2 separate regions of the Homo sapiens genome follow, and region 1 is linked to region 2. A link means that fine-mapping ties the variant in region 2 to the expression of a gene that starts in the linked region. Tissue or cell type: esophagus mucosa. Region 2 holds a variant in brackets; the other region holds the start of a gene. All regions are shown on one strand. Distances are between the middles of the regions.

Region 1 (6,136 bases), 160 kb after region 2:
GCCACTGTACTCCAGCCTGGGCGACAGCGTGAGACTACGTCTCAAAAAAAGAAAAGAAAAAAGAAAATTACAGCTTACTGCAGCCTGGGAGTATCTGGCTTATGATGTAACTATTAACGATTACTGAAAATATATCTCAATAATAAAACAGTAAATCTTTTGGCTAAGCCATAGCTTTTGATACAAATAAAGCTAAATGCCTATTAACTAATGGTGGAAACCACATTTTAGTTTATTCGAAGAGGTCAAGCACAATAGAGACAAAATGGGCTGGAATCCTAGTTCTGCCAGGATAACCTTGGCAACACAGGTTAACCTGCTGGACCCTCAATTTCCCATCTGGTTAAAAATACCTAGCTAACAGACTTCTGTAAGTTTAATGCGGTAATGTACAAAAGTTCCTAGTATTGCTATTTGTTAATTTTCCCAACAGTAAAAAAAGGATAAAGATGAAAATCAAAATCAGCTATGAAATCCTCATTCCTCATATTTACAGAGAAGGTTTCATTTATTCATTCTATAAATGTTTACTGCAAACCTACTGCGTGTTCTTGACACAGGGGATCAAGTGATGAACAAGACAGACAAGGTCTCTGCATTCCTGGTACTTACATCCTAATGAGGGAAGGCAGATAACCCAATAACCCAAAGAGACAATTTCAGAGAGAAATTTAAGTGCTATGAGCAACAGCAAACGGGTGATGTGGCTTGGCTGGAGGGGATGGTCATTTAGCTTGGATGCATAAGAACCTAGGCCTGCTTGACTGATCTCCTTTAGCCAAGTATAGTCCTTTAGCCAAGGACCTCACCTTGTATGATACTTGCGGGGTACAGTGCAGATGATGAGAAGCCAGGCCTTCGCTTTCACCCATCTGTGGAAGTATCTCTTTTGCAGCTGTAGTTTAAAATATTTCTAAATGCCCTCATCCCAATACTCAAACTCTGAGGGTCAGAGCAACACCTAGGGGGTCTCAAGCACCTCTGCGCAGTACGCAGACACATGGAAACCGACAACTTCACAGTCCCCTCAGCTCCAAGAGTCCCGACTGAGGAGACTGGTGGCTTGTGAGGCGGAGAAGGACAAGCACAAGTGTGCAGAAGGCAGCAAGCAAGTTGCGTTGCCGAAGGAAGGGCGGCGCGCCCCTGCTTAAGAAGTATCTGGACGACCTGCGACAGTGCCCATCAGCGACTCCAGAGGCCACAAACGCTCCCCGGGAAGCTGGGCAGCGCTAAGAGGCTGCCTGGGAGTTTCTGGCTTATGATGACAGTACTTAAAGAATTTACCTGACCACGGAATAAACAGAGACAGAGGTAGGAAAACCCAACTGTAGACAACGTTCAGACAGAGTGCATAAGTCCCTAAGACCCTGAACTAAGACGCTGCAGGGCCTCCAGGAAAGGACCAATGTGAGAGACACTGAGACGAGAGTTAGGGTGAGCCTGAAGGTGATCTGAACAGTAGTAATTGGAAACTAACAAAAAAAAAAAATTCCAGAAGGGGCCAGAAAGCTGATGAATATGTAAATTCAGACAAGAAAGGAATGTGCCCTGGGCCTCCAGCCCAGCACCGGGGAGCTGAGCAAGCCGGGGTTGGGAAGGCGGGCGAGCGGAGCGCCTGCCCCGCGAGCGTTGTCTCAGTCTCTCCGGCGCGCCCCATCCCGCGGATGTGGTAAAGCTTCGCGCTCGCCCCAATTTACCAGGCTTCCTGAGCCTCTAGCCCCGGCGTAGCGCCTCCCCGCTGCCCAGGACAGCTCCGCGCGCCGCGTCCTCCCGCACCTGCGCCGCGGCCCCTGCGCTCGGCTCCTCCTGGCGGTCAATCCTCTGAGCCGTCCCTCGAGGGAAGGTGTCCTGGGGTGGGTGAGACCCGGGTCCTCCTTCCCCGGGAGCTGCAGCCGGCACCCAAGCTCCCAGGCTTGGGTCTGCCCCAGGGCCGGAGCCTCCCCGGGCGACTCGGACAGACCCCGGTCCGGCAGAGAACCGCGGCGCCCCGCAAACAGCAGCCCTTCCGAGCCCGCGCCGCCGCCAGGCCCCCCGACACCCAGGCCCCATTTAGGCGGGCGCCCCGCCACTCACCTGAGCGCTGTGCAGCCGGAGACGCTCCCTAGTTCCCCGGGGCCGGGCTCCGGGGTTAGCGCACAGAACCGGGAGAAGGCAACCCCGGCTTCTCCGGTACCCCCGCAACGTGCAGCTGACAGCTCCCGCACCGGCCGCAGGAGTCGGGGGCGGGGATGGCCACTTGCAGACAGACTGCGGGGCCGGAGCCGCGCTGCGCACCGGCCGCGAAGCGCTCAAGTCCCCTCTCCCGGGCCGGCTGGCGGGCGCCACCAGCACGCGGCCAGTTCTGAGTACTTTGCCCAGAACTTCTCGGCGCGCGCCGCCCGGCGATTAGCCCGAGGAGCCGCGCAAGGGCGGGAGCGCAGGGGAGGGGCCTGAGAGGCCCAGGGGCGGGGCCCCGAGGGGGCGGGAGGGCGGCAGAGTGATGCACAATCTCACCAATCAGAAGTCGCCTTTCGGGAAGGAGGTGGGGCGATGTCCTCGGAAGAAGCCAGCGGATTCCATGACGCGGCGGGGGAACTAGGGACCCCGGATTCCGGATGGGTTGGGAGGGCGGAGGGAGGCGAGTCCTGCGGCGAGGCACTGGGTGGGGCTCCCGGTGGCCCAGCTCGGTGCCTGCGCGCGGTAGGCGTTCGGTAAATGTTCCTCTAGTGGCTTTTCCGGGCCAGGGAAGGAGGAAAAAGTGAGGGCAGCGCGGGAGGGGCAGGTTTACGGAGAAGGCTCCAGGGGACCCTTGCGGTCGCACAGGCTAGGAGAACTCGACCTCCCGAGAAAGTCAGACTGTGGCAGAGGAGTCGAGAACAGAGGAAATACATAGGGAGGCAGCACTCTAGGCACGAGATGACAAAGGACAGCATCAGTGTGAGACCCGGGGCTCGGAGACCGTGACCCTACCTCCAGAGGCAGTCGTGCAGATTCGTGCCGGGGTGATTTTGTTCTGTGCAGTTTATGTGCAAGGGGGTAGGAGGTGGGGAGAGCACCGTCGTTACTATTAAATCTCCCTGAAAGACGGAAAAGTCCACCCGACTTGACTTCCCACTAGCCCAATGGCCTTCTTTGATCCTAGGACGAATGCAAGCAGCTGATGGTTTGGGGTCAGTTTGCAGACTGCAAATGTGTCGAGTGCCGCAGGTGGCGGGTGGGAAGGGCATGAGCATTTAGTGAGCACCTAGTATATGCCAGGAGCAGTTGCGAGCTTGCAACTGTGAGAAAGGCGCACCAGGCTCCAGTACTCACGGGGCTTGCATTTTTTGTGGAAAGACAGACAATAAAGAAGAGAAAATACATATCTATGCAAAAAATAAAAGGCTGACAGACTGTTAGTACTGAGAGGAGGGCCAAGTCCACTTTCGAAAGTGGTTTAGCGCGTGATGGGGCGCTCACCCTGAGGGCCTCTAGGCGAGGGTGGCTTTTACCCAGATTCCTGAGCCTGGGAAAGGAGCTGCCACACCCAGTCTCGCACAGAGCGTTCCAGGCGAAGGGAATAGCAAATACAGGGTATTTAGCCTCCCTGAAGACCCAACTAACCGACCTCACCGAGCTGGGCACCGCGCGTGGCTCGCTGGGCTCAGCGCCTGGGACGGAGTAAGGGCTCCACAGTGTTAAATCCCCCTGCCAACCACCACCTGCAGCGCTCGACGCATTTTCAGTCTCCAAACTGACCCCAATTCAAGGTTTCTGAGACTCTTTCCGGAGCTATTCTGTTCACATTTCATTCACCACGCTCAGATCTTCGCTTTCTGGAACCATCCCCCTCGCGAAATGTCTGGGACTGTCTGTTTCGGATCTGGCAGGCGGCGGGCGAGGGCGGGAGGCGCCAGAGATGCTGCCGAGCAAATCCACTGTCATGCTGCCCACGTCGGCACACGGAGAAGCTTATTGGAGAAGATTTCAAATCGAATGACTCCGCGGTTCCTAAACCACCTCGCAAAGCCCGACCAGCGCCAGGTGGCTGGACGGGTAGTGGAAGGACGCGTCTGGCAGGCGCGCGGACCGTCCAAGGAGGCACCTTGCCCACGCCCAGCCCCGCCGTCGGAGCAGCTTAGACTGGGTTTTCCCAAACCTCCTTCCGTCTTTCTGTAATTTCTCTCTGAGAGAGGCTTGCTCTGTCCTCCTCCTGCCAGTCCCTTTCCTCGTTCAAGCTATTTTCTTTCTTTTTCTTTTGCTCTCCACCTTCAGCCTCTCCGCCTGTTTCTTTAGCATTGGTTTTTCTGTAGGAGACAAGCCTTCAATCCGAAAGGAAGTGATTTGCATAGGGCTTTGTTGTTTAGCATCCCGTTCCGAGCTTTTTCATTAATGTCTTCCTAATCAAATAATAATAGAGTGTACATTCTCTCTCTCTCTCTCTCTCTCTGTGTGTGTGTGTGTGTGTGTGTGTGTGTGTGTGTGTGTGTGTGTACTTGAGGCAGTTAATTGGACAGGATGAGAGAATTATTCACATTGTGCCTTGTCTCCAAGTAAAGGAGGAATCGTACTGTGGCTTTTCATAGTTTCATTTCCTCTTCTACTCCTAAATAAACTTCCAGGCTCTCCAGCTCCTAAAATCAAAAGGAAAAAATAAAAATAAAAGTTGAAACCCACGCAGAGCTAATTATTCTTGAAAAAGTTTGTTAATGTTCTAAAATCAGCTTTCTCCTCAGCGTCTTATTTTAAAATAACGATTTGAATGTCTAATAAAGACCAGTGGTTCCATATTAAGAGTTCCTAGAGACCCTCTTCTTTGAACTGTTGAACAAATAATTTTTCTCTTTGGAGACAAGCCCACCACAGTGGGAATTTTTCACATGTGACACAGTGGTCTTAGCTTCTGAAATTGGTAATAGGTAAGCGGGTGCTACTTGAGTTTGCATGTTTTGATAGTAAAGGAAACTGAGGGCCTCTAGAATCAGACTACCTCAGTTCCTGTCTTGTGATGACCACCTGATTCTGCAATCACCTTTCCTTGTCTGTAAAATGGAGATATTTATGTAGCTGCTGGACTACAGGAAGAGTTTGATCATCCATTTGCAAACAATTTCCGCATAGTCTAGTGCAGAGTTCTCAACCTCAGCTCTATTAACATTTTAGGGAGATAATTCTTTCCTGCTGGAGGTAAAGGTTGGGGGGGTGCTGTCTTGTGCATTTAGCAGCATCTCTGGCCTCCACCTACTAGATTCAAGGAACACCCTGTCCTCCCCAGTTGTAACAACAAAAAATCTCCAGACTTTTGCCAGAAGTCCTCTGGAGGGCAAAATCCCCCCTGATGAGAACCACTGGCATAACACATAGTACGTGCCTGCAGGAGGCGATATAGGGAAATGCTTATGGATATGGGTTTCTAAGGTGTGAACCTCAGGCAAATTTTGTTTTCTTAAGCCTCATCTGTAAAATAGGAATGATAATAATGCTAACTTCTTAAAGTTGTCTAAGGATTAAATACAATTGTGAATGTAAAAGCAATTTGCATAGTGCCTGGCACATGGTAAACTCAAAAGACTCAAAAGCTTCTGGTCTCATTTTTTTTCCTGTGAAGAGAAGGCATTGGGCTAAATTAGGGATGACACATCTTGACTTATTTGCTGCCACTTTCCTCCCGCCTTGTAGCAGACATCATTATGGCAGTCAAGGCTGCCTTATCCGCTAAGTCCAAATAGAGCCTCAGAATCGTTCTCAACACTGCGAGAAGCTGCCACTGATAGGCCAAGATCAGCATGTAAGATAATGCTGAATTGCCATTCTGGGGCTAGATGAACTTTAAGATCCCTAATAGTGTCAGTCTTCTGATATGATTACAAGTGAGGAGGAACTATTGTTTATCACTTCATCAACTTCTTTTATGAAGGGGTGGCGGAGCAAGGCCCAGAAAGTTGCTAGTGTCTTGACCATAATCATACAGCCTATGAATGGTCAGAGGCTAAGTCTCCTCTTAAAGAGCCATCTTTTTGCCACATCTACTGCCTATGGAAAGTGGGAAAAACACTTGTCTAAAGCAGAGTTGCCACCCTCTCCACCCTGTACAGCCCTACTCATCTTCTTCCTCCTTCACTTTTATCTGAAAAATGAATCAAAGTATTTAGTTGCATATGAACACCTTGTAAGCATT
Region 2 (5,000 bases):
TCTCTCCATAGTGCTCAATCCACCTCTGCCCGCTTAAGATGTTATGGATGCAAGAGGTCACTTTGTTCCACTCAAAATGATCCCCAAAACTAAAAAGAAGGAAAAAGTAGAAGTACCAATTTCTAGAAGAGCCAGCAGCAAATGCAAACAAACTCTGCTCTTTTATAAAATAAGTCATGCAATGCATTATTCATCTCTTTATTCACAGAAGCAACACTGGCTAAGTGTCTATGTCACACTGGATGTTCTAGGAGCTTCCACTCTCCAAGGAGGCATGCATGCCACAGAGAATGACAGCATTCAGACTTTGCACTCTGGAAGCTACCAGAGGCTTCACTAGAAGCTGGTGGTCTCTTGGAACAGCCCACTCCCTCCTTTGACAGAGGAGGCAATTCAGAGCCAGAGGGGCTTGTCTAATGTTGCTGAACTAGGAAAGGGAAGCTTGAGAAAGGGATGAAGGTTTTATACAATCTGCTAAACATACATTGCCTGCATCCTTTGTGATGAGAAAGTATTCAGATATTACTTATGGAATTCAATAATTACGAGGAAAATGGTATTAATAATAAGACCAGATACTTACAAAACATATGCAATGTGCTAAGTACTATTTTAGGTGTTTCATGTATATTATCTGTTTAATCTTCACAATAGCCCTAGGAAGTAGGTGGTTTATTATTCTCTTTTTCTAGATGGGGAAACTGGTGATGAGAAAGGTGAAGTAACTTGCCCAGGGATTCGCTGTTAGTAAGTGCCAGAGTGAGCAGGTGAATCTCGGCAGTCCAGTTTCAGAGTCCCTGCTCAGAAGCATCTTGCTTTATAAATAAGTATCAATCATCCCTATCAGATCAAGGCCATACTTTTCTTAAAAGGGATTTTGATAGCAAAGCAGCATAATAAAGGAAAAACACTTTTTTTAAAAAAATTGAGATAGGGTCTCACCCCTTCACCCAGGCTGGAGTGCAGTGGCACGATCACAGCTCACTGTAGCCTCAACCTCCCCAGGCTCAAATGATCCTCCCACCTCAGCCTCCTGAGTAGCTGGGACTACAGGTGCGTGCCACCACTATGCCTGGCTAATTTTTGTATTTTTTCTAGAGACAGGGTCTTGTCATGTTGCCCATACTGGTCTCAAACTCCTGGACTTAAGCAATCTGCCCGCCTTGGCCTCCCAAAGTGCTGGGATTACAGATGTGAGCCACTGCGCCCAGCTAAAACCACCATTCTTAATCTTGTTAGGAAGTGGAAATGAGTTTTTAATAAGCATCTATTCAGGGAACTTTGGTCTCCAGGAGGCATTTCCATTTGAGGGAGAAACATTTTTTAAAAGTGAGCTTGCCAAAAGGAGGAACATTTAAACCTACTGTCAGACAGATTAAAAGAAAAAATACACACTCAATGCAACTGCCGGGGGCGGGGGTGGGCATCCTGTCCCCAAAGCAAAATCTTGGCCCTAAATTCCATAAAGCTCCTTAACCACAGAAGAAGAACTTACACTGGCAGAGTCACATGGGTTGTGCCAATTGGAACAATTTCCATGGATTTGCCCCAGAATTTGTTTTTCCATCTCACATCTGAAATGAAATACCAAATATTACATTTTTAGCAGGAGAGGTAGGTAGATGAAATAGTTCCTAGGCTAGATAAATGATCAATCGCTATATAGTACAACCTCTTCACAATCAAGTCAATTATTGTATAGGATAACTTTTCATAAAATATAAGTACCAACCCCATATGGGCCCTTGGAGCAGAATCAGGGAAACTAAAATGATAAGATAAAGTCCTTTCCATGAATGCGAGAAGTGAAAACAAGTAGTAAGCACACAGAGAGGCCCAGGCTATAACTGAGTGTGTTATAAGGTAAAATGAAACCTGAGAAGAAGGAGTGACGAATATGCTTGGAGAAAGCATCAGAAGAGGCTTGTCAGAAAGGGCCATCTAAATGGGGCTTTGAGGAATAAGCAGGAGTTCACTGGGCAGAGAAAAAGCAATTTAAGGCCAAATAAATAGCTTGTCTGAGGGGACGGAAGTATAGGAAAACACAGTCAAATAGTGTGGTTCTGTCCTATAGGTCTCAGATTGTCTTATCTAGAGAAGAGTAGAAAGGTTGAGAACAAAACCAGGTGCAGTGGCTCATGCCTGTAATCCTAGCACTTTGGGAGGCAGAGGTGGGTGGATCATTTGAGATCAGGAGTTCGAGACCAGCACAGCCAACATGGCGAAACCCCTTCTCTATTAAAAATACAAAAATTAGCTGGGCGTTGTGGTGGGTGCCTGTAGTCCCAGCTGCTCAGGAGGCTGAGGCAGGAACCCAAGAGGTGGAGGTTGCAGTGAGCCAAGATCATGCCATTGCACTCCAGCCTGGGTGATGGAGTGAGATTCTGCCAAAAAAAACAAAACAAAACTGAAAACGAAAAACAATGGGCTCTCCAAGCCTGGCTAAGAGTCTGGTTTGTGTGCACTGAGTGGAAATAATCAGGCCACTGATGTGATTAGACATGGACCTTGCAAAGGCAATTGGAAGCCATATGGAGAATGGAACAGGAGTAGGAGAGAGGAGAAGCAAGGCGACAAGTTAAGAGGCTACTGCAATTGCCCAGGGGATAACAAACGGGATGAAGGGAACCAAGACAACAGACGCGGGGAAGTGAGTGAGCCCAGAAATACTAAAGAAGAAGAAATAGGCACTAGGTCAACTAGGTGACAAGTTAGATACAGACTGAAAAAGAACGAATTTATGAACAATGTCAGATTTCTCTAACTTGCAATGAATGGTGGTACCAACAGAGAAGCCAGGAAATAGAAAAAGAACAGCAAGAGGATCCCATCTGGCTGCTGCACTGAGGATCTACAGATCACAGGGAAATCAGGGTTGAAGCAGGGGGGACAGTGGGGAGCCCTGGCTGGGGTCCAGGTGAGAGAGGTGGGTCTGGGACCAGCGAGCACAGTGGGCCTCATATTGT[T/A]TAATCCTATTTATATAAAATGCCCCAAACAGGCACATTTATAGGCTGGGGAATATTGAGAGAAATGGGGCAGGTGGCAGAGGGGGTGGATAATATTTGCTAAAGAGGATTCTTTTTGGAGTGATGAAAATGTTCTAAAATTAACTGTGCTGATAACTGCACAGTTTATTAAATTCACAATTCTGTGAATAAAAACCATTGAATTGTACACTTTACACGGGTGAATGATATGGTATATAAGTTATATGTTCATAAAATTGTTACCAAGAGAAAAAAAAGATAGATGGCTGTTTAAAGCTAAAGTATTAACAATGTACTACATGGTTTATGATATACAGAAGACGTATGAAAAAATAGTAGAGAGGTTGGGAAGGGAAAATGGAAGTATACTTCTGTAAATCTCACTATATGAAACTGGCATAATATTATTTGATGATATTAAAAATATATAACATAAATCCTAAAGTAACAACTTTAACAAGAAACAAAACAGGTAAGTATAGCTAATAAGCTAACAGGGGAGATGAAAGAGAATGATAGAAATTATTCAATCCAAAAGGCAGAGAAAGAGGAAACGGAGAACAAAGAACAGATGTGACAAACAGAAAAGAAACATCATGAGGGCAGATTTAAGCCCAGCTACATCTACAATCACAACAAACGGAAATGGTTTACACAACCTACATAAAAGGCAGAGAAATGTCAGGCTGGGTTACAAAGCAAGATTTGGGAATCCTAGGCCCATGGAAATAGGTAGATTGCTCAGGAAAAGGCTGATGGGGAAGTATGGCCTAGGAGAAGGATGCTAAGGCTGAGAAGGGAAGGATGTAACACAGGAGCACACAAAACTACTTTGAGAAGACCCCTCGCATTAAAAAAAAATCCAACTTTTGGCTGGGCGCAGTGGCTCATGCCTGTAATCCCAGCATTTTGGGAGGCCGAGGCAGGCGGATCACAAGGTCAAGAGATCAAGACCATCCTGGCCAACATGGTGAAACCCCATCTCTACTAAAAATACAAAAATTAGCTGGGCATAGTGGCGCATGCCTGTAGTCCCAGCTACTCGGGAGGCTGAGACAGGAGAATCACTTGAACACGGGAGACGGAGGTTGCAGTGAGCCGAGATCGCACCACTGCACTCCAGCCTAGCAACAGACTGAGACTCCATTTCAAAAAAAAAAAAAAAAAATCCAACTTTTGAAAAAACAAAGAAGAGGTGCTTATAGCATGAGTGAGATTTACCAATTAGGAGGCTAGGAACCTTATGAGAATATTTCCAGAGGGTTTTGGTGAGAGAGCAGTTTTAATTTTAAACTTTAATAGCAAAGGTGAAGAAAGAAAACCATGGTACTTGTCACTTTAAACTGGAAATACTGATTGCCTCCAAAGAGAGAAACTGAGTGGCTGGGGAAGGGGGTTACAGTATACTGTTTCGTACTTTTAAAGTTTAATAGACTGCGTGTGTGTGTGTGCCTGTGTGTGTAAAGGTAACGTGTGATATCACTAGTAGCAGAGAAAAATATTTTTAAAATGTATATGTGCTCACTGTCCAAAAACCTAGGATGCTTATATGTTCCTTCTACAGTACACTTTTTTTTAATAAATTGAGAGATTAACAAAATTAATCCATCTAGGAAATATCTATAGCCTTATTTATTCTTTAGAAGATTTACCCACCCAACCCCAACTCAAAATATAAACTGAACAAAATTTTAGGAACAATCATCTCAAAAATGAAAAGAAGTAAGCAATGTAAAACACGACTTCAGAAATAAAATTTAAGTTTGACAAAAGCTGAAAACCCCTCTGCTGTCTACACTCTGATAAACAACTGTAAATATTTAATGTCTCTTGAAATATGTGAGGCATTTCAAATGATTTTTACATAAGATAAAGTTACAGAAATAAATGGAGGTGGCTCAGATAAACTAAGTGAGAGATGAGAGGCAAGAACAGGTGGCGCAGATCCTTCCAACCAGGCCCAAATCCAAGGACCACTTTTGATCTCAGTAAGAATTGACAGCAATTCTTGGA

Which allele goes with the higher level. Positions count from the first base shown, and alleles are read on the strand shown. Sizes are in standard deviations (SD) of each study's normalised expression.
With allele A in place of T in region 2, the expression in esophagus mucosa of the gene that starts at base 2,366 in region 1 is lower (small effect, 0.19 SD a copy in GTEx).

Evidence for each region. PIP is the estimated chance that this variant, and not a neighbour inherited with it, causes the effect.
Region 1: OSBPL3 starts here. The variant in region 2 is fine-mapped to the expression of OSBPL3 in esophagus mucosa (GTEx, PIP above 0.99).

The regions. Positions count from the first base shown.
Region 1 is chr7:24,977,813-24,983,948 of GRCh38, forward strand. It overlaps OSBPL3 (oxysterol binding protein like 3), which reads right to left and starts at 2,366. Exons shown (of 23, transcript NM_015550.4): 1 at 2,074-2,366. RefSeq lists silencers at 1,756-1,965, 2,016-2,525 and an enhancer at 3,666-3,835.
Region 2 is chr7:24,815,115-24,820,114 of GRCh38, forward strand. It overlaps OSBPL3 (oxysterol binding protein like 3), which reads right to left. Exons shown (of 23, transcript NM_015550.4): 18 at 1,496-1,574; 19 at 1-89. Among named protein-coding and RNA genes, the nearest start is that of GSDME, 60 kb to the left of the region's middle. The variant T/A (reference allele first, on the strand shown) is at 2,967.